Linked DNA regions of Homo sapiens. The protein of the gene in region 2 interacts with the protein of the main gene of each other region in a pairwise test. Each region holds a gene or a part of one and is shown on either strand. Other genes may lie near its edges.

The links. Proteins that work in one complex are often made in the same cells at the same time.
Region 1: the proteins of SLC35A5 (region 2) and SACM1L interact in binary tests that used the Homo sapiens proteins (3 or more experiments, as listed by UniProt).

The regions. Positions count from the first base shown.
Region 1 is NC_000003.12:45,692,378-45,699,407, reverse strand, and holds part of SACM1L (phosphatidylinositol-3-phosphatase SAC1), read right to left. Parts: intron 1-7,030.
Region 2 is NC_000003.12:112,572,025-112,579,054, reverse strand, and holds part of SLC35A5 (UDP-sugar transporter protein SLC35A5), read right to left. Parts: intron 5,167-7,030; coding exon 5,099-5,166; intron 1-5,098. UniProt on the Homo sapiens protein: Probable UDP-sugar:UMP transmembrane antiporter involved in UDP-alpha-D-glucuronate/UDP-GlcA, UDP-GlcNAc/UDP-N-acetyl-alpha-D-glucosamine and UDP-N-acetyl-alpha-D-galactosamine/UDP-GalNAc transport from the cytosol to the lumen of the Golgi.

The DNA.
Region 1 (7,030 bases), about 67 Mb from region 2:
CACCATGAGGCTTCATTTGAACCACAGCTACATAAACCAGAGCCCAGCCTAATATGAGCATTTTTTTATTTTTTTATTTTTACCATTACTGCTACTATTATTTTTTTATTTATTTATTTATTTTAATTATACTTTAAGTTTTAGGGTACATGTGCACATTGTGCAGGTTAGTTACATATGTATACATGTGCCATGCTGGTGCGCTAGATATGGAGTAAAATACCAGAAGTTGCTTAAAAAAGTAGATGCCTCTGTTATTATAAGCTTTGTATACTACTTACTTTTAAACCGTATACATAAGATTGAAATAAAAATAAGATTTAAAAACTGTATTACAGGCCAGGCGCAGAGGCTCATGCAAAATCCCAGCACTTTGGGAGGCCGAGGCGGGTGGATCACAAGGTCAGGAGATCGAGACCATCCTGGCCAACATGGTGAAACCCGTCTCTACTAAAATACAAACAAAAAAATTAGCTGGGTGCGGTGGCACGTGCCTGTAGTCCCAGCTACTCGGGAGGCTGAGACAGGGGAATCGCTTGCTTGAACCCAGGAGGTGGAGGTTGCAGTGAGCTGAGATCACGCCACTGCACTCTAGGCTGGTGACAGAGCAAGACTCCGTGAAGTTAGGAGTTCAGTCAAGACCAGCCTGGCCAACATGGTGAAACCCTATCTCTACTAAAAATACAAAAATTAGCCAGGCATGGTGGCAGGCGCCTGTAATCCCAGCTACTCAGGAGGCTGAGGCAGGAGAATCGCTTGAACCTGGGAGGCGGAGGTTGCAGTGAGCAGAGATTGCGCCATCGCACTCCAGCCTGGGGCACAAGAGCGAGACTTTGTCTCAAAAAAAAAAGTATTATAACAAAGTATACAAATAAGAGTAATTATGGATCAAGGTAGAGATGTCTCGCTCAAAAGTCCTGAGGCCTTTGCTTGATCTTCTCTCTCTGAGAGATGCTGTTGGAATCTAAATTGCTGATGCTGCCATCAGGCTATTCTGATAATGTCACTGAAAGTGGTATCTCTAGGCTTAAGAATTGGAGCAATGAAAATGTGAACAGTGACTGCCAGGGAATCAACATTTCTAGGGATGCTCATTAGAAGTAATGACTCACAATTCTGTTAACCATAACAGCAGGTATCATCCTAACTCACGGCACCTACATATATGCCCTTACTGTTCTCTTCCTCTCATTTCCCACCACTTTTGTATTGGTCTTAATACTGATCTGAAGCATAATTGTTTTATGTAATAAATTTTATTCTATGTTTTATGCTTCCTGGGCTTCATTTCAAAAGCCAGTGAAATTAACTTTAACTCTCTAGCATTTAAACCGTCAAAAACAATTAAGTAAACATTCAGTGGTATAATTTTTCCTGGTGTGTATTGTTTTATTGCTATTTTTGTGTTTAAATCTTTACCAAACAAGCTATCATATTACTTATTTTATGAAATGGATTTCGGAAGACAAGATTCGATCCAAGAAGATTATTTGGTCATTATCTATACTGTTGATAACAGATCTCTAAGGTTCAAAGTAATACTGTATACTAAAAAGGGTTCTGGTCCTATATAAACTATCTGGTGAGGTGATTAGCCTCCAATTCACTATTAACTCTAACTGAACAAGAATCCTACCAAATATCTGTCAAGACAAGGGGATCCCATACCTACCCAGAGTTCTGGTTCCCATTAATAAGACACATACTATGGAAGATATATCAAAATAGCATAATACTTGTATAATAATTGCTCCTATTTTGACTACCTTCATTCAGTTCGTCATTTTGCTTTTAAGGATTACTGTCCAAGCATGGCATAAAAAAGAAAAAGTGGTTGGATACAGTGCTCATGCCTGTAATCCTAGCACTTTGGGAGGCTGAGGCAGGAGGACTGCTTGAGCCCAGGAGTTTGAGACCAGCCTGGGCAACATGGCAAAACCCCGTTTCTACAAAAAATGCAAAAATTAGCCAGGTGTGGTGGTATGCACCTGTGGCCTCAGCTATTCAGGAGGCTGAGGTCGGAGGATCACTTCAACCTGGGAGGCAGAGGCTGCTCTGAGCCAAGATCGCACCACTACACTCCAGCCTGGGCAACAGAGCAAGAGCCTGTCTTAAAAAAAAAAAAAAAAAAAAAAAAAGGAAAAGAAAAGAAAAACAAAGCAGGAGGATCTTGAGGCCAGGAGTTTGAGACCAGCCTGGTCAACACAGCGAGATCTCATCTCTACAAAAAATGTTGAAATAAAAAAAAAAGAAAGAATCAACACTTAGGTTGCTTCCTCCTTTTTGACTGTTGTGAATAATGCTGCTATGAACAGGGGTATACAAATCCCTCTTTGAGACCTTACTTTTAATTATTTTGAGTATCCCAGAAGTGGAACTGGGACTAAAAGCTAAATGCAACAAAGGCAGTTCTGGTATTACACTTAATACAAATGCATTTAATCTTATAGTCACCTGGGATTCAACAGCTCTTAAGAGTGTTTTTTAAAAAATTAGTCTTGTTAAATTTTAAGAAAAGCAATATCTTTAATTATAATATTAACATCAAATATTTTTATTTTCTTTCAGTGTTGGCATTGCGATTTTCTAGTGTCTGAAAACATTTATCTCTCATGTAACATTCACGTCTTATTTCAGACAACTGATCTCTTTAAAATCCTGTCAAATCAATGAGTAAAACTGGCCCACTACAAAAACATTACTACTTACCAACCTCATACCCATTAAAATGGCTATTATCTAGAAGGAAAAAAAAAACAAACCCAGGATAGAAAATAACGAGTGTTGGCTAGGATGCGGAGACACTGGAATCCTGGTGCTTTGTGGGTGGGAATGTAAAACGGTGCAGCCACTATGGGAAAACAGTATGGTGGCCCATTAAAAATTAAAAATAGAATTCCCATATGACCCAACAATTCCACTTCCGGGTATATACTCAAAATAACTGAAAGTAGGGTTTCAAAAAGGTATTTGTATACTCACATTCATACTGGCATTACTCACAATAGCCAAAAAGGTGGAAGCCACCTATGTGTCTATTAACAAATGAACAAACGAAATGTGGTACATACATATAATGGAATATTATTCAGCCTTAGAAAGGAAATTCTGGGCCAGGCACAGTGGCTCAGGCCTGGAATCCCAACACTCAGGGAGGACGAGGCAGGCGGATCACGAGGTCAGGAGATGGAGACCATCCTGGCAAATGCAGTGAAACCTTGTCTCTACTAAAAATACAAAACAGTAGCTGGGCGTGGTGGCAGGCACCTGAAATCCCAGCTACTTAGGAGGCTAAGGCAGGAGAATTGCTTGAACCCAGGAGGCAGAGGTTGCAGTGGGCCGAGATCGCACCACTGTACTCCAGCATAGGCAACAGAGCGAGACTCCATCTCAAAAAAAAAAAAAAAAAAGGAAATTCTGACACATGCTACACAATGGATGAACCTTAAGGACATTATGCTAAGTGAAATAAACCAGTCATAAAAGGACAAATACTGCCACTTCATGAGGCATCTAGAGAAGTCAAATTTATAGAGACAGAAAGTAGAACGGTGGTTGCCAGGGGCTGGGAGGATACAGAAATGGGGAGTTGTTTAATGGGTACAGAGTTTATTTTTGCAAGATGAAAACGGTTCTGGTGATGGATGGTGATAACGGTTGTACAACATGAATGTGCTTATTGCCCCTGAACTGTATACTTAAAAATGGTTGAGATGGTAAATTTAATGTTTTATTTTACCACAATTTTTAAAAATAATGAAACCACTATTTTGCATAGGAGCCACAGTGATATGTCATAAAACTGTAGCAAGAACATATTCCCTCAAAAATCTTACGTAAAGAATTTGGCTGGGTGCAGTGGCTCATGCCTGTAATCCCAACACTTTGGGAGGCCGAGGCAGGTGGATCACTTGAGGTCAGGAGATCAAGACCAGCCTGGCCAACATGGTGAAACTCTGTCTCTACTAACAATACAAAAATTAGCCGGGCCTGGTGGTGCATGCCTGTAGTCCCAGCTACAAGGGAGGCTGAGGCACAAGAATCACTTGAACCTGGGAGGTGGTGGTTGTGGTGAGCCGAGACTGCGCCACTGCACTCCAGCCTGGGCAACAGAGTGAGACCCCATCTCAAAAAAAAAAAAGAATTAAATCAAGGTCTTAATGATCAAATTTAATACATCTCTGGTTGAAAAGACAGAGGCACAACACTTTACTAGGTTTGGTGAGCAAAAAGAAAACAACTTAGTAAAGAAGGATCCCCTGCACATACTACACTCATAGGCAGAAGGTGCTCCTACCTCCCCCATTCATCCTCCCTTTGGGTATCTCCTCACTGAGCCCTCCCTGGTTGCCTCTCCTATAGCTCAAGTTCATCACAGACTCCCCAGGGGCACAACCCAATTCCAAACCAGTTGGTGTTTCTAGAAAGACTCATTCTAATGCTATCCTCTTTCTCAAAACTCTGTGTTCCCACCTATATCCTATTCCCTGAATGCCCTAAAACCCATTCTCTCAACCAGACTTCTTCACAGGACTAGGTCCAAATTCCACCTAATCTGAAGCTCTAATCCACAGCACAATCTACCAGAGCCCCATATCTTCCAAAGAATTCTCTTCTACCAGCATGTTCTGGTCCTAACTCAGCTATGTATGCCCAGCCCTAAAATATTTCAGAGTGCATAAAAACTACCAGGATAGCTAGTTAAACTTGCAGATTTCCACCGCTCATCCCCAGAGATTTTCACTCAGTAGGCCTAATGTGGGGCCCTGGAATACGCACTTAAAACAAGCATACCAAGTCATTTGATGTAGCCTAGCACTAACCTAGGCTAGCCACGTGAGCCTAGGTAAGCCTGAACTAGCCTGAACTCCCAGCCAACTAATGCTTTGGATACAAACCCCATATTGTCTGTGCTAAAACTCATGAGAATAATCTGAGCTGCCCTACACCCTTCCCTCCACCGGGAGACTTCTGTGAATAATATGAATGTTCATTATATTGAACAGATTATATGTGTCTGTATCACAAGGTAGCTTAGGTTACATCTGTTTTCAAGGTTGGATCATATCTGCCCTGACTGATGACCTCACAGTTATGAGACTCTTTTAAAAATGGCAATTTCCTGAGGAAACAGTACTCTTCAGAGGCATGCTGCAGCCTGATGCAGTAACTAAAGGATTCCCTGCCTTACACCTAGTTTCAACTGACCTTTTAAAAGAAAAAGAAAAAAAAAGAAGAAAAAATGCTTTAAATGTATCCAATAATTTTGCACCTCTAACTTTCCACTGAACCTTTTAGAAAGTTATTATGAGCTTGAGGTCTGAGGGGCCTAAGAAGTGCCCAAACCACATTTGATGTCATTTCCCTGCAAAGGAAATGTGACACCTACGCCGAACTGCCAAGGTATTTTAGCTTATATACAGGGATAGATAAGCTTCTTAAAAATTACATTTCCAGTCTAATTATTTTGCAATTTCAAATTTATCACTGTCTGACATTATCCATGCCTATACAAATGGCTTAAAAAGAAAAATGGAGCCTAACAGGATATTTAGAACTGCCTGGAAGTTTAAAAAGTATGAATTTTAAATTCTGAGCAAATCAATATTCTGTTTTCCACATTAAACATATGGAAATTAATATGGACATGTCAACTATATTTGGTTGTAAGTGACTCATTTCAATACCTGGCATGTCTGAGGACTAATGCGAGAGCAATCTGGTAAGAGAAAAAAAGGTCATATGGATAATGCAATGAAATGGAAAGATCACTGGACTCTGGACCAGCCGTATTCCAAGGCTAGCTCTACCATGGCTTGGCTGTATGATCTGACTTTGTGGCCAAGGGCAATTATGAGACTGTTTTCAACAATGACAGGATACCTATCAACCTATGACCTCACAGAGACACTGGGAAGACAATATACATGAAATGACTTTTAAGCTGTGTTTCTTCAAAACGATACATTCCAAATTACCCTAGACTGTGTTCTTTTTGCAGTGCTAGTACGTGGTCTATACTGGAAAGTTCCTTTCATTTACTCAGTTGATTCACTGAGGAGCTGCTCTGCACAAGGCTCTATGTTAGGTACTGAGGAGGACTAGAGAAGAAAATGTTAAGGTGTAAACTGGTTGGAGAAACAAAGTACAGCCATGTGCCATGTAACAATGCTTTGGTCAACGACAGACTACACATATGATGGTGGTCCTATAAGCTTATAATACCGTATATTTACTGTACCTTTTCTTGTTTATGTATGTATACATACACAAATCTTTACCATTGTGTTGCAACTGCCTACAGTATTCAGTACAGTAACCTGCTGTACAGGTTTGTAGCCTAGGAACAACTGGCTATTCCATATAGCCTAGGTGTGTAGTAGGCTGTACCATCTAGGTTTGTGTAATTATACTCTGATGTTTGTACAAAGAAGTTGCCTAACATATTTCTAACATATTTCTCAGAATGTATCTCTGTCAGTAAGAGTCACATAACGGTGTACATAATGATTTCATTTCTAAGTGACAAAATGAGTGGTTCAAACAGTACTATGGATTGACCATTCTAGCTTTCCATCCTCTTGTCCATGAGAAAGTAAATGCACTGTAAACTGATCCTAAGAGACAGAATACATAAATCATGTAAACATTTGGTGTCTAACCCTGTTACAATAATTTTTCATTTTTGGCTTTAAAAACTGTTACCAGAACTCAGTGAAGGAAAAGACATGGAAAGAAAACATTTCTCAAAGAAGGTACCTATGAGGTACACTAAGTACTTCATCTAAACTCTCTTTGGGCCAGGCATGGTGGCTCATGCCAGTAATTCCAGCACTTTGGGAGGCCAGGGTGCATGGATCACTTAAGACGAGGAGTTCAAGTTTCAGCAACATGGCGAAACTGAAAAACAGAAAAAATCAGCCAGACATGGTGATGTGCACCTGTAGTCCCAGATGCTTTGGGGGCTGAGGTGAGAGGATCACTTGAGCCTGGGAGGCTGAGGCTGCAGTGAGCTGAGCTCACACCACTG
Region 2 (7,030 bases):
ATATGCTTTCTCATATGTATGTAATTTTCAAATAGCCTGATCTAGAACTTACTGATGGCGTTAGCGCAGCCTTATGCCATCAGGTGAGAAACTGTGAACTAACCACTTAAATTTCTGAAGGTGCAGCTGATACACATTAAGTAGCAGAAAACAAATAGAATGACCACAGAGATAAAAAATGGGTGTCCATTTTACAAAAAAAATTCCATAATTAATTATTGCAAATCGCATATAAGTGAGGCAATGATATAATCTATAGTTCCTTTAAAAGTTTTCTAGAGCTATACATTTTTCACTAATATTAAGAAAAAAGAAAGAAATCCTTAAGCTAAACAACACCTTCTGTAAACAATTACTCATTCAAGGTAATGCTCTAAGGAACGTAAAATTTATTAAGGATTAAGCTAAAAATTAAAAATGGTAGATTTTTAGGAAAGAAAATAAAGCTTAATAAATTACCCTGTAAAGTCAGCTGACAATCTGAAATGACAACTGAGTCTGCTAGGCCCAATTTGTTCTTCAGTTTAACTGATACAAAACAGTGGAAGCTCACTTCACTCATCTCTCCACTGCCTCGGTAAAACATAGTAATGGATGCTCAGAGCCGAATGCCTGTGGCTAGAAGGCTACTCTTCCTGAGGGCCTCTCCTCCCAAGTGAATTGTTTGCCCACAGAATCTCTGTTCCTAAACATGTTTTTGCCAGGTGACCTCACTGTTGTCACTACATAAAGATTACATAAATGATAAACTATGAGTAAAAGACAAGAAGCTGTTTTTATGAAAACTAAGTTGAACACTTTGGGAAGACTAAGTGAAGGTAAATCATTCAGAAGATAAAAAGCTGTTTTCTAATAACATATAGGTGAGCTAAGGAACTTCAATCAGTAACATACTCAAAGGGGGGGCTTTAGTTCAACATTAGAAGAATGATGAATACATGTATATTTACATATTCTAAGTTAAAATAAATTGTTTAGATATTTTCTATATATACTTATGTATATGATTCATCACTATAAGTTTTCCTAGCAACTAACCAATAGGTTCAAATTGTGTCAGATAAGAGCACTTCTATATTTGGTGGTAGTAAACTAGTGCAGGGTATGAAGACAATTAAATGGAAAGACTCACATAATTGTTTTCTCAAGAAACTGTACAAAACACATTTCTTAGTAGCACAAAGAGAGTGACAAGGGGCAGATTTATAATGAGAAGTCACAGAGAAAATTTATCAACTGAATGAATGATTCTGGAGAAATGCTTGTACTACTACTGAGTGGCACTTCTCTTTGTTCTTCTGCTGTTTCAGACAGTAACTAAACTTTACCCTTACTTCCTAGACATCCACCATGTTTCAAAATGTATTTTTAAATAATTTTTTTCCATACCTTCTCTTTGAGGAAATCAGAGAAACTTATATACATTTTTTAGGTAAAAATAAGTGCTGGTCTTGGTTATCCTTTGCCTCCAATCTCAATGTTTAGGTTGGTATTATTTCCCAAAGCTAAAGCAAACAAAATTGTGCAACTTTGCTTAGGTTACAAGCAAACCAGGGAAGCAAGCTACAAGGCATAATGCCTGCTACCAGTTTCTACCATGAACCAGTGGCTTATACTTCAAAGAACAAATCTATACATTCACATAAAGTTTGAATCCTTGGAAAATAACATGCTAATAATCTAATATTGTGGCTTATACTTCAAAGAACAAATCTATACATTCACATAAAGTTTGAATCCTTGGAAAATAACATGCTAATAATCTAATATTGTCTTTTATGAGAATGCCTTTAGGTATTTTATTCTTTTTAGAAAAGACAATAGGACATTTAGATGATAATATTTTTTTTCCCACTTTCAAATTCCTCCAAGTAATCCCTGCAGTAGTTACCAGACTTACTTTTGCCTGCTTTTGTAGCCTCATATTCTTTTTAAGAATTTTTAAAAATTATTTTTTTTTTTCTTAAAAAATTTTTTTTAAAAATTATTCTATTTTATTTTGTAGCCTTGTATTCTTTACCTGTATGGGAAAGGTATTTGATAGTTCTGATACAATCAAGTATAAGACAACAGATTTAATATTCTAAATGAAAAGTGGCAAACAAAGAATATGTGATAGAACTATTAAGCTGCTACTCCTAGGTCAAAATTTAATCACAAAGGGCAAAAAGACCATCAAATGATTCACAAAGAGTAAATTAAATAGGGAAAACCAATGCACACCACCAACTCCAAAAAGATCAAAATAGAACAAAGTTAAGTTGACTTCAAAATGTAATAAAAGCACATACATCAATGAGATATTTTTCAGCTTTAAAAATTGGAAGGAAATCCTGTCACATGCTACATGGATGAACCGTGAAGACAATATGCTAAGCTAAGTGAAATAAGCCAGTCCCAAAAGACAAATACTGTATGATTCTATTCATATGAGGAATCTAAAGTAGTCAAATTCAAAGAAAAAAAGAGAGTGAAATGGTAGTTATCAGGGGTTAGGGTGAGGCGGGGAAAGGAGAGTTGTTTAATGGACTTAGAGTTTCAAATTTGTAAGGTGAAAGAGTTCAACATCTACTTCACAACATGAATAGACTTAACACTACTAAACTGTATGCTTAAAAATTGTTAAGATGGGCTGGACGCGGTGGCTCACGCCTGTAATCCCAACACTTTGAGAGGCCAAGGCAGGTGGATCACAAGGTCAGGAGATCAACACCATCTTGGCCAACAGGTGAAACCCTGTCTCTACTAAAATACAAAAAATTAGCCAGGCGTGGTGGCACGTGCCTGTAACACCAGCTACTGGGGAGGCTGAGGCAGGGGAATCACTTGAACCCAGGAGGCGGAGGTTGCAGTGAGCTGAGATTGCAACCCTGCACTCCAGCCTGGCGACAGAGCAAGACTCCGTACCCACCCCCACTGCCAAAAAAAAAAATTAAGATGGCAAATTTTTTTTCTTTTTTTCACAATTAGAAAAAAGAGTTAAAAAATGTAATAAGGCCAGGCGTAGTGGCTCACACCTGTAATCCCAGCACTTTGGGAGGCCAAGGTGGGCAGATCACCTGAGGTCAGGAGTTTGAGGCCAGCCTGGCCAAAATGGTGAAACTCTGTCTCTACTAAAAATACAAAAATTAGCTGGGCGTGGTGGTGTGCACCTATATTCCCAGCTACTTGGGAGGCTGAGGAACAAGAATTGCTTGAAGACGGGAAGAGGAGGTTGCAATGAGCCAAGACGGTGCCACTGCACTCCAGCCTGGGTGACAGAGTAAGACTCTGTCTCAAAAAAAAAAAAAAAAAAAGTAATAAAATACTTAAAAGGCATTCTCATAAAAGACAATATTAGATTATTAGCACGTTATTTTCCAAGGACTCAAAACAGAGAGATGTTAACAACAAAGCAAATATATGTCTAAGAATCATTATTATTCCTCTGAAAATAAGAAAGTATGTAGAAATTTTTTTTGAACTTTAATTCATACCAGTGTTAGTTATTATTAAAATTAGCAAAATGCAATCAATATTATAACTAGTATTAAAAGCAAATATTTAAAATGTATAGTATAAATAGATTTAGATTTAAACTTAGAATGAACTTTCTTAATACAAATAGTTAAATGCTTAAAAATTTAACAAGGAATACTTATTATAGGATAGGACTAAAGCTACTGGCCAATTTCAAGTCAGGCAATACATACTTTTAGTCTTTAGTAAATTCAGTTTGAAATTGATGTAATTTTGATGTAATATTTTTATATTATACAACTTCAGTATAATACCATCTGTACTCATTTAAAGTAAATGACAAACACTTTAAAAATACATGTTTTTGAGACCTGTACTCCCTTATTAAATCGTGATCCTTTTATCATCTTGGAATATGGAAATGGTCTTGGAACCATTTTATCTTCACAGAAGTACATCGCTAATCTATCACAGGAATCAATATACAAATATTATTGCTTGCTTACCTTTTCTCAAAAGTCAACTTTTTATACTACAAAGTGAGATTCAAACTGATTTCAAAGACTTCAAAATGTTTTTGGAATATCTTTTTTTTAGTTAAAGAATTATTTTCACAATTCACAAATAAATTGACAGATACGTAGAACAAACTTCGATGTACTCTAACATTTAAACTGGGCTAAATGTAATGTTCACTTTTTCCTTATCTCTCACATTAACTATCAAATTAAATGTTTCCTCAGGGTAAAAGAAAATACATCAGGAATCTTATATAATTTATATATTAAGTATATCATGGACTCAACAAATTAAATCTTTGTACCAAGCCAGTCACCCTTTCATATACACAAATTATGAAAGAACATACTATCACACAGCACACTGAGAATCAATAAATCAAAAAGATAATGTAAAATTTAAAAAAAACAAATCTAATAAGAAATTAATTTTATTTTTTAATCATTATCATTAAGTAAGAAATTAAACTGAAGTTAAGTATCCAGATCCTGTATCATCTTCCTGCCTTAGGACACTCTGGCTTTTGCTTTGAAGAGAGCTTAATTTACTTAAAAATGTTTATACTATTCAACGGTCCTCTTGGAGATAGTAAAAACTGGTGATAACATTTTTAAAAGTTTAAAAAACTATCCTTCTTAACTATAATTTTGACTAGATTCTTCACACACTCTGCTAATTAGTGCTTAAATCACGTCCTCATCTCAAATAGTTTAATAAAAAATTGGCCATTATCTATCATCTCCAAACTACAAATTACAAATATATTAACAATCTTAGGAACCATTTGCTTCCCTATTAGTGCAGAAAGATTTTGCATAAAAAGCTCATTAATTCTTTGTTGAAAATCTGGCACTAAATATGAAAATACTAATTATAACACAGTCAATTATCTTATTTTTAAGATGCTCAAGACATTTTCATTCATCTGATCACAGAGGATTTAGATGGACTAGCACTGGAGCTGCTTTCTACATGGCTTAAACGTGCCCAGTACACAAAGTCAATTAGGAACAAAATCCTGGCTTTGGGATTCTGACGGCTCAGTGTTCTGGGTATATCATTTGAAACCGGGCTATGTTATTTTAAAGTATGATATATGTTTTCACAGCAAGTTACTTACTTCAGCACTATCCTGAATAGAAGAGCTGTTGTTATAATGCTAAAATTTGAGAAGATAACAGCCATGGCCTAGAAAGAAAGAGAAGATAGAGTTACAATCCAAATGAAGTACTGACCTCAGAAATGTCTTAGCTTGGCAGTTCACCTGACAAAAAAAGCTTTTTGGTCAAAAAACAGAGGGGTTATTAAGGTAGCAATTTCAACTAAGGATTAAATTCCAGTTTTGTCGCTTGTCAAATTTACGTAGATATGATCAAATTATTGTCCAGGCATTGCCTGTGTAAATAATCTTTATATACAGATCTGAAATTACTTATAAATTCTAAAGGTTTAGGTTTAGAAATGACAGTTGCTATGCTTATGAAGCCTACTTTTCAAAGTTCTCAAAGCGCCTTATGGATTTTTAACACTGTTTCTACGGTCACATAGAAGGCAGGTACTGTATGGCCCATTAATATAGTAAGAAAACTGAAGTATAGATTTTTTTAAGCATCTTTACCATTCTAGGAATTGTATCAATTTTCCTGGTTGAACTGCAGTAACTCAATACCAAACTCATACTTGACAGCCCTGCGCACTGATTCAAGTTGTTCTAAACACTTAGAAATGTATCAGCCAGATTTTAAAACCATTTGTTTTTACGAATTCAGTCCTATTTCACACATGAGAGTATTAATCTGAACATGTATACATTATGCTCAGAAAGCATGAAATTCCATCATTGCTGCCCATAATTAGATCTGACAATAGTTAATAATTTTTTAATGCAAATCTTAGGATGTACTTCACCCTGCCTTCCTGCTTGCTATCACTTTAAGGTGATTAAACCCCAAAAGATATTAACAGTCATATATACCCACTAATTAAAACAAACATGGCTAATATGAAGCTAAATTAAAGATAAAACTCAATGAAAAATGGCAACAACTCCAAGAATATAACATTGTTGTTTTTCTATTACATTCTTATGGGAACCACCATTTTAAGGTTTTCTCAGTGTACTTCTCTGTAGGCAAATGCCTGTGAACCCCTAGTTAGGAGATGAGTAAGAGGAAAAGAGGAAAGTGGCTGTGAAGTGTGGAAATAGTGGCCTTGATCAATCACATTAAGGGCAGTGCAAAAGTGCCTAACCATGCAGCCTGACGGCTTGATGAATTCTGAAAATTCTGAATACTCTTTCCATGCAAGAGGATAAAATAAAAACATCAGAGCTCTTTGGCCCAAACATTCCATGCATCTCTATTTAATTCCTTCAATAGGCTCAGGCACAGCAATACACAGAGTATGCATGTGTTTTATTCTGTAAGATATATGGTTGTTCACAATCAGGAAGGAAGAGCAAAACAATAAGCTGGAAGAAAAATAAGGAAGTTGCCATTTTGCTTTGGTACTGGGGGACACAGAAAAGAGACACAAATTTAGAGTGAATCTGTGATAAAATACAATAAAATGTATTGAATTTGCATAATTTTGTTGGGGACAGCAATTCTCAAAAATGGAAGAATTTAGGAGAGAACAGATCCTAGGTGGACTGGACACTTATTAGCAACATGCATTACAGAGCCAAAGAAAACTTCAGGTGATCACCTGGCCCAGTTCCCTGCCTTTGAACTAGTATATTATTATTATTATTATTATTTATTTCATAGAGGGGGTAACTGAAACTTAAAGCAGTTGGGCCTGCCTAGTTACACAGCTTCTAAACTGTGGAAAGTCGGCCGGGCACGGTGGCTCACGCCTGTAATCCCAGCACTTTGGGAGGCCGAGGCGGGTGGATCATGAGGTCAGGAGATCGAGACCATCCTGGCTAACAAGGTGAAACCCCGTCTCTACTAAAAATACAAAAAATTAGCCGGGCGCGGTGGCGGGCGCCTGTAGTCCCAGCTACTCGGGAGGCTGAGGCAGGAGAATGGCGTGAACCCGGGAAGCGGAG